Regions from separate parts of the Homo sapiens genome. Here regions 1 and 3 are each linked to region 2. Evidence: fine-mapped expression QTL. A gene starts in region 2. Each other region holds a variant in brackets. All regions are shown on one strand. Distances are from middle to middle.

Region 1 (2,764 bases), 40 kb after region 2:
GGTTCAAGATTCTTTTCCTAGTCTCTGCAATTGTTTAAGCAAGAATGGGATTATTTAATCTTAAAAGGTTTGGTAGAAATCCCCTTGAAACAATCTGGGCTTGATGCTTCTTTTGGTAAGGGGTACTTTTAACTATTTGTTTCTTCTACGGTAATTGGTTTGTTGTGACTTTATCTACCTAGAGTAAATTTTGGCAATTTGCATTTTTCTCAAAATAGTTTTTGAATTTATTGTGTAAAATTGCTCAAAATAGTCAATTTAAACAAATTTCCTGTTTTACTATTTCCCCCTTGTCATTTAAATTTTTGTATTTGTGCTTCCTCCTTTTTTTCTTAAATAGGTTAGCTGGTAGTTTATCTGACTCAACTCCCCGCACTACCCATCACCAACTTGGATTTATTATTGCCTCTATTGTTTTGGTTTTCTACTAGTAATTCTTTTTTGCTTTTATTAATTCCTTCCTTCTGCTTTATTTTGCTTTTTACTCCAAGTGTTTGGTACTTGGTTAATTTTCCCCTTTTCCTACTTTTATTGATAACTGTACTAATTAATATAAATTTCCTGTCATATTTGCATTTTATTTTTTGGCAAATATTAGGTTTTTATCTGTCTTGTGGTCATGTCCTTCCGGTGTGCTTTCATTGTCTGTGAGGATGTTGATCTATTTATTCTCTTATTTCTTATACTAACTTTGACTGGAGTTGGACTGTAATCCTGGCTCACTTACTCTTTTTTTCCCCTTAACTGAAATGAGTTTTTCTGTACTTTTAGGAGGAAGGAGTGGCTCTAGGATGACTTCACAGCCTTAGAGCTCCCATTTTCACAGTGATTTAAAAGAATATATATATATATGAAAATACACATATATAATGTCTCTGTGTCTTGGCCTTTCTTCCCAATACTTATCTAGATCTTCTTTCCTTTGTCCTATTTTACCCATCCTGCCCATTTGGATTCTAATTCTAGAAGTTTGTCCTCAGTGCTGGGCTTTGTCTCATAAGCTTCAAGAGGTACACAGCGTAAAACCCAGACAGCTCTAATGCAATCAGCAGACCTTATCATATTGCTTTAACATTCATCTGCAAATGAGATTCTGTAGTCACTTCCCAGTTTCAGTGTCTGTTCTTAGATTGGCCCGCTGCACTTTGTAGTTGAGAAACTGTGGGCAGTGTTGTAGTTCTCCAATTTGCAGA[G/A]CTGTCAGAAACCAGCTGCCTTCCTTCTACTTCCTCCCACAGATACTGAAACTATGTGGTTCAGTGGTTTGTCCTCACTTAGTTGTATTTTGAAGTTCATAGAGATACCTTGTCATCTAGCGTTGTAATAGTGTCTGTGGCTATCCTAGTTGCTCTGTATTCTTATGGGGAGATTAGAAAACAACACTGTTGTCATCATTTTCCCTGAGGTTAAACTGTTAAGACCTCTTTCTGTTGTAGAAGAGAGGTTTTAATTACAAAAATAATTTTATGATCATTATAAAGAACCTATAATTTGAAATTTGCTGTATTCCAGGTACTATCCTAAGTGCTTTATCTGTATTATCTCATTTAATCCTAAACCCTGTGTGTTAGGTTTTACCCTTATTTTATCCACGGCAGAGTTAGGGTCCAAGATCATGCTGCTGAACTGGCAAATCTGGGATTTAAACCCAGGTCATCTGATTCCAGAGCACCTCCTCATTAACTGTCTCTCAAAAATGATCAGGTCCAACAGTTTTCAAATTATATACCACTGTCAGCAAGATTTCTATATGAATTTAGATTAAATATAAATAACTAAAGATCTAATAACACATATATATTATAGATCAAATCTAAAAACACTGAAATGATAAACAGGTTAAATTAGGCCATATGATCTGATTAATCTCATTTGTACACAGATGCTCAAAATAAAGCTCCTCCTCCTACCTTCTAAAAAAAAAATGCCACAAAATTAGGGGGCGGGAAGGAGACAAGTATAGAGTAGGTAACAGAGCTTTTTGAGATTTCGGACTTCGTATTTTCCCTCATTACATCGCTCCTGTTAAGGAATAAAGTGTATATGTGAAATATTGCTTATAATTTATTTAATCGATAAATGCTTTTCTTGTAAATAACTATTTAGAAAAGTTAGAAATAGTTTCTCCACAATTCACACTGGGCTGCTATTTTCTGGTCAATTCAGTTGCTGTGGAATGTGAACATTTACTAGTCCATAAAGTTTCACAAGAAAGTCTCCCACAAGTGTATCAATTAGAAGCATACTAAAATTTATAATCTTATGGTATTAAATTATCAGGAGTTAGAAAATATTTAGCCTTATGAAATACTTTTAGATTGGAATTTTTCTCTAACATTTATGAATAAAATCACTGTTACTACCTTTATTGCCTTCTAACCTTTCTTGGTGATACAGAAAAAACAATTTGGGCTTTTTATATAGTCCTAAAGCCATTATATATATGCTACTTTAACTTCCAATGTCTAAGAGATGACTTAGTTTGAGATATGGATGTCTTAATCTGCCAGGATTTAAATAGTAGCAACTGGAATAACCCATAGACGGATAACATCTGTTATTAAGCTTACTTTTTCCCCCACCATCAGAAGATTTATTTTATTTCTAATTAAAAAACATACAGTTGGCAAACTCAGGTTTAAAACTAAGCATGCCAATAATAAATCAATCATTTCTCCAAGTACACAGTGTTTCCCTTGGGAAGGACTGTTATTTCACAACATTTTTTTCCCTCTGATTTAGAAAAAAAGATAACATTTAAAGTATT
Region 2 (2,764 bases):
CCTCACAATTCACATCAAAGAATACAGAATATTCACATCCTATCTCATTTCACAAAGGGTTTGGCACCTAATTCAAAAGAAAATCTTGTCCGGGATATCCAAAATAGGTTCTTACATTCCATTTTATGTATAAATATGGTCAGTTCAGGTTTACTTGTCACTGGGGGAGGATCTAAAATCATTTCCATTTTCTTGTACATAAAGCAGTGTCTTGAATCTGACTTTTTAATCACAATGGACATAAAGTATTTCTTACCCAAGAGAAAATTTAGTTCATCTGTCATTGAGGGAGAAACAAACTGATTAAGTGTGATGTGGCGGCTCCCTCAATTAAGCAGTTCCTCGAGAAACTTCGGAAGAATTGCACATTCGACACCTTTAAACAAAAACACTTGTAGGCTGACAGCTGCCGGGGCCCCGGCCCGCCCCCCGCGGGCAGGCGAAGCCGGGGAGGAGCCTCTGGCCCAGGCGGCGGCAGCCGGCCGGGCCCGCGGGGGTCAAGACGCCTAGACAAAGGGCGGCCCCGCAAGCGCGAGGGACGCGCCCCAGCTTTCTGCCCGCACCCGACTCCCAAACGCTAATTAATTCTACAGCCTGAGCTCCATTAGAGAGACCCTCCATGATTCCCCCGAGGTGCTCAGGTGGGCAACCATCGGATTTGCGCTCTTCTCCGGCCCAGGGGACCCCACGTCCGGCTCTCGGGGATAGAAAGGGGACGCCCCGGATTGCGGAACCTAGCCCCGGGCGGGAGAAGGCGAAGAGGAAGCGGGATCCCCACACGCCTGCCTTTGCTCTCCCGGGAGGAGGCTCCCTCCGGGCTCCCGGCGGAGGAAAGAGAAAGAGCCGCGGTCGGCACACCGCCCTCGAGGTGGGGGCGGCGGTCCCCTCCGCACTCACCGGCGAATCTGAGCCATCGCCCTCCATGGCTGCCTTCTGCCAGGTGTCATCAGCGGCACGTTCCACTCACACCGGCTACCGAGCGCAGGGTCTGGTGGGCGGGTCCCTGCGGCGGCCGTGGAGCCTCGGTCCGAAGCTGGAAGATGAGCTGGTCAGCTGTACGTGGCCAGCGGACCGACGCGGGGAGAAGTAAGCCGGGGCAGGCAAAAGCACAGGCGCGGGAGAAGCGAGCTTTGCTCCCAGCGACTACCCCGGGAATCCCGCCCAGCTGCCGGCTGCAGCAGCGGCTCCTGCGGACTGCGGCTGGGAACGGCGCCGCGCAGAGACCTGGGCGGGGCACCGCGGGGCGTGGACAGGGCGTGGCCTGGTCGTTGCCCAGGCAACAGCGCCAGTCGCACAAAAGAGGCGGGGCCGCCTGGGGCTGGTAGGCCGGGTGTCTGAGTGGTAGGCTGAGCGGGACTCGGCTGGGCGTGGGTGTGGCACGCGGTTGGGACTCGGCGCCCTCCGCCGCCACCTTCCCCCTACGCATCAGCCCCTCCCTCCCACCCGGGTAGTCGCCCGTCGCCCTATGCCAGGCTGGGGGGCTCTGAGGAACGGAAGTGAGGGCAGCGGGGAGCGGTGGGCGGGTGCCGAGGGCGGCGCCGGGGCGGGGAGGCTCCGCTGCAGCAGAGCAGCCGGCTGCAGCCCTGGCCCCTGGCCCCTGGCCCTGCGCTGCCATTCCGCCCTTCAGTTTGCTCTCACTGCGCTTTCTTCACTCGCGGTTCGAAGCCCCGCTTCCAGGCTCGGCACAGGACGGTGCGGGCGAGGGCGAGCCTAAGCCACCTTCCCTGAATGGCCGCGGCGAGCACGGCAGAGCTGCGCGAGGCGACCAGAGTGAGACCCCGCCCGCCCTCTCCGCGGTCCCTAGCCAGGCGCGGCCTGGGGTTCCCTGGCCCCGCCCGGCTTGTCCCAGTTCTCTTCTGGCTTCACTTGCTGGGTGAACTTAATAGTCCCTGACTGGGCACCGAGCAGTCATATCCCGCTTTCTGCTTCTATACCCCCAAGTCGCGATGTCACCGCACGTTCTTGCCCAGTAGCGCGGGGACCGCCTGCAGGGTGGAGATTCCTCTCCCGGATGCTGGCCAGGGACTGAAGTTAAAAGGCCGCGGCAAGGGAGAGACCCCCCGCCACCCGGGCCTACGCTTTCCTTCCTGAGGGCCAGGACAGAGGGTCCTGAGCGGCTCCGGCACCCCCGCACCCCCGCGGGGAGTGCTGCTGAACGTTAAGGCGCGCGCCAGCTCAAGGACTGGCGGCGCACATTTCACCTGCCACGGCCCAAGTGTGTTTCTGGTGTTGTTTTCAGGACACACGGAGAACAAATTAATTTAGGATTATTAGATCACGCACTGCCTTTCTGGCTAGCTAAACAATTCATTCCTATGTATTAGGCTTTAAGAACAGATGCCCTAAATTGCTGGGTAAGTAGGGACTACAGAGCTGTAGCGAGACATCTCGTTTAGGTTTTAAAATGCTTCCCACTTTTATTTCCTGTTTGGGAGAAGTCTGTCGCTGTGGCAAGTTCCGTCGTCTTCCCACAGCCCTGTCTGCAGCGGTAGCCTCGTCTCCAATCCGGCATCTAAATAAGGAGTGTAGAATTAAAAACACTGAGGGACTATAGCAATTTTCTCTAATGGAATACCCTCCATTTACAGATGAGGTGAACAGAGGACGAAAGCTTTGCCAGGTAATAATGCCTGGGCTGTTCTGATCCGGATTAATGCCCGTTGCGTGGCCGCAGGTGCTAGACTTGGGAAGGCTTCCTTCCCACAGGTTCTGAAAAGTGCTAATCAGGAGGAGACTAACAAATGCCTGCGTGAATTAGGTGCCT
Region 3 (2,764 bases), 73 kb after region 2:
GAATGCTTACCATGTGCCAGGTCCATTCTAGGTGCTTATGGGAATTTCCTCATTTAATTTCCATATGAGTCACAAAAAACATAATTATTTCTATCATGTACCTTTTTTTAATAGCCCACCTCACTGCCTATACAGTCCTTTCATACTTCTCCTGTCAGATCAATTTTTATGTGATCAACATGTTCAATCCCCCTTTCTACAGAACAGAAAACAGAAGCCCAGAGGTTAAGTGATTGTTCAAGGTAACGGTTAATAACACAATAGGGTCTACTGTCTTTTTACTTTAACTCATTTAGTGTGTTTTTACTTTAACTCATTGCTTCTTTACATGGGAGCAAACTAAAGGTTTAAAGCTGAAGAGAAAATATGTACTTTGTATTTCCACATTAGCTAGACCTTCGTTCTGAGTCCAGTAATCCACTTGGCTTTGAAGTATGTAGAACACTGTAAGTTAGCACTTAGTCTCTCTCTACTCAATCAAAATATGTTTATCCATACTTTTTTTCTATCTAAAAATTTTCATTTCTCAAGATATCAATGGAATATAAGTTGGGAACTTGAAAGAACAATCAACTATACAACAATTATGGTTTTAATAGCTATTAGAAAATCAGTATGATAGATGCAGAAAATAACAATGCAGTATCAGCAGACTGTAAATGCACCGCTGATAAAAAAAAATCGAGTTGGTCTAAAAATAGTCTCTGATATGAAGAACTACCTTCATAAGAGATTATGACTAGTGTATGACTAACTTCATTATTAACTGTTTTCACTCTCCTACTTCTGCATTAGGTACTATATTTTTTCAGCTTCTTATCCCCCCAAAAAACTTAAAATAGTAGCTTATACATTAATTCTTTGAACAAATTAGGAACCACTAAATTTAAACTCTCCACCAATTATCATCTCCCTACTGGCGAAAAATGTATTTTAAAAAGATACTAGCAGCCAGGTGTGGTAGCTCACGCCTATAATCCCAGCACTTGGGGAGGAGGCAGAGGAGGGCGGATCACCTGAGGTCAGGAGTTCCAGACCAGCCTGGTCAACATGGTAAAACCACATCTATACTAATAATACAAAACTTAGATGGGTGTAGTGGCACCTGCCTGTAATCCCAGCTACTGGGGAAGCTGAGGCAAGAGAATTGCTTGAACCCGGGAGGTGGAGGTTGCAATGAGCCAAAATCGTGCCACTGCACTCCAGCCTGGGCGACAGAGTCAAACTGTCTT[GAA/G]AAAAAAAAAAGATACTAATGGTGATTATGATTTCAGTGATTATGGTTCTCTTATCCTAAGGACTTTTAAATTGGTAAGCTACTTAAAACTTGCCAATATATAACAGAAGTTATAAAAACACTCATATCCTTTTGACCCAGTCAAATTATGGTTCTCTTATCCTAAGGACTTTTAAATTGGTAAGCTACTTAAAACTTGCCAATATATAACAGAAGTTATAAAAACACTCATAACCTTTTGACCTAGTCATGATATATCTGAGAATCAATTCCAATAATTTCAAGTATGAGAAGAAATGCACACTGCAGTTTAATAATAGTGAAAATCTAGAAGCACCATAAAAGTCCAGCAGGTTAAGCATATCATGCCTCATGTACTGAAAGAAACGCTATATTCCTATTAAAAATAATAATCAGTAGAACTATGTAGCAACACAGAGAAATGTATTTGATCAAGTTAAGCAAAAAAGTAGGATCCAAAAATAAATGTGCATTTTTATGTTTATAATTAAGCAAATGGCACATATCAACAAAGACTGGAAGGGAATAAACAAAATAATATGAATGGTGTGAGATGATATGAATAAGGCTGAAATTTGTTCTCTGTATTAGTCACTGTTGCCATAACATATTACCACAAACTTGGCAACTTAAAACACCTACTGCCTTACTGTTTGTAAGGTCAGAAGTCTAACACAGGCATCATCAGGCTAAAGTTAAGGTGTAGGCAGGGCTACCTTCCTTACTTGGAGGCTTTGGGGGAACAATCTGCCTCCAAGCTCATTCAGGATGCTGGCAGAATCAACTTCCTTGCAGTTGTGTGACTGAGTTCTCCATTTCTTTGCTGGTAGGTATCCCTTTTTGCTCCTAGATCCTCTCTTGCCATTTCTCATATATGGGCCCCATATCTCAGAGTGGCAACGGCACTCAAATCTTTTCCATTAGACCCTCTCTACCTTCTCTTCTCTCTTCTGCTCCCTTTCTCTGCAATTCCATGACGAACGTTTCTGTGTTCGTCTGCTGTTCATGTGATTATACTGAGCCCACCTGTACACATGTCACCTATGGATAAGCTCCACATTTTAAGGTCAGTTGATTAGTATAACTTTAACTCCCATCTACACAGTCCCTTCACAGCAGTACCCAGATTAGTATTTGACTGAATTAACAGGGAACAGAAATCCTGGGGCAACATCTTTAGAATTCTACCTAACACAGGTTGGGCGCGGTGGCTCATGCCTGTAATCCCAGCACTTTGGGAGGCCGAGACGGGCGGATCACGAGGTCAGGAGATCAAGACCATCCTGGCTAACACAGTGAAACCCCGTCTCTACTAAAAATACAAAAAATTAGCTGGGCGCGGTGGCGGGCGCCTGTAGTCCCAGCTACTCGGGAGGCTGAGGCAGGAAAATGGCATGAACCCGGGAGGCGGAGCTTGCAGTGAGCTAAGATCGGGCCACTGCACTCCAGCCTGGGCAACAGAGCGAGACTCTGTCTCACAAAAAAAAAAAAAAAAAAAAAAAAAGGATT

The links. PIP is the estimated chance that this variant, and not a neighbour inherited with it, causes the effect. A credible set is the group of variants that fine-mapping cannot tell apart.
Region 1: its variant is the best candidate, but not a certain one, in a credible set for the expression of TRIM36 in whole blood (INTERVAL, PIP 0.82).
Region 3: its variant is the best candidate, but not a certain one, in a credible set for the expression of TRIM36 in whole blood (INTERVAL, PIP 0.60).

What each region holds. Positions count from the first base shown.
Region 1 is chr5:115,208,280-115,211,043 of GRCh38, forward strand. It overlaps PGGT1B (protein geranylgeranyltransferase type I subunit beta), which reads right to left. Exons shown (of 9, transcript NM_005023.4): 9 at 1-2,764. Among named protein-coding and RNA genes, the nearest start is that of TRIM36, 40 kb to the left of the region's middle. RefSeq lists a silencer at 980-1,089. The variant G/A (reference allele first, on the strand shown) is at 1,194.
Region 2 is chr5:115,168,711-115,171,474 of GRCh38, forward strand. It overlaps TRIM36 (tripartite motif containing 36), which reads right to left and starts at 1,198. Exons shown (of 10, transcript NM_001300759.2): 1 at 898-1,198. The coding sequence starts at 924. RefSeq lists silencers at 374-463, 1,194-1,613.
Region 3 is chr5:115,241,733-115,244,496 of GRCh38, forward strand. The region is part of intron 2 of PGGT1B (protein geranylgeranyltransferase type I subunit beta); the gene reads right to left. Among named protein-coding and RNA genes, the nearest start is that of PGGT1B, 20 kb to the right of the region's middle. The variant GAA/G (reference allele first, on the strand shown) is at 1,233.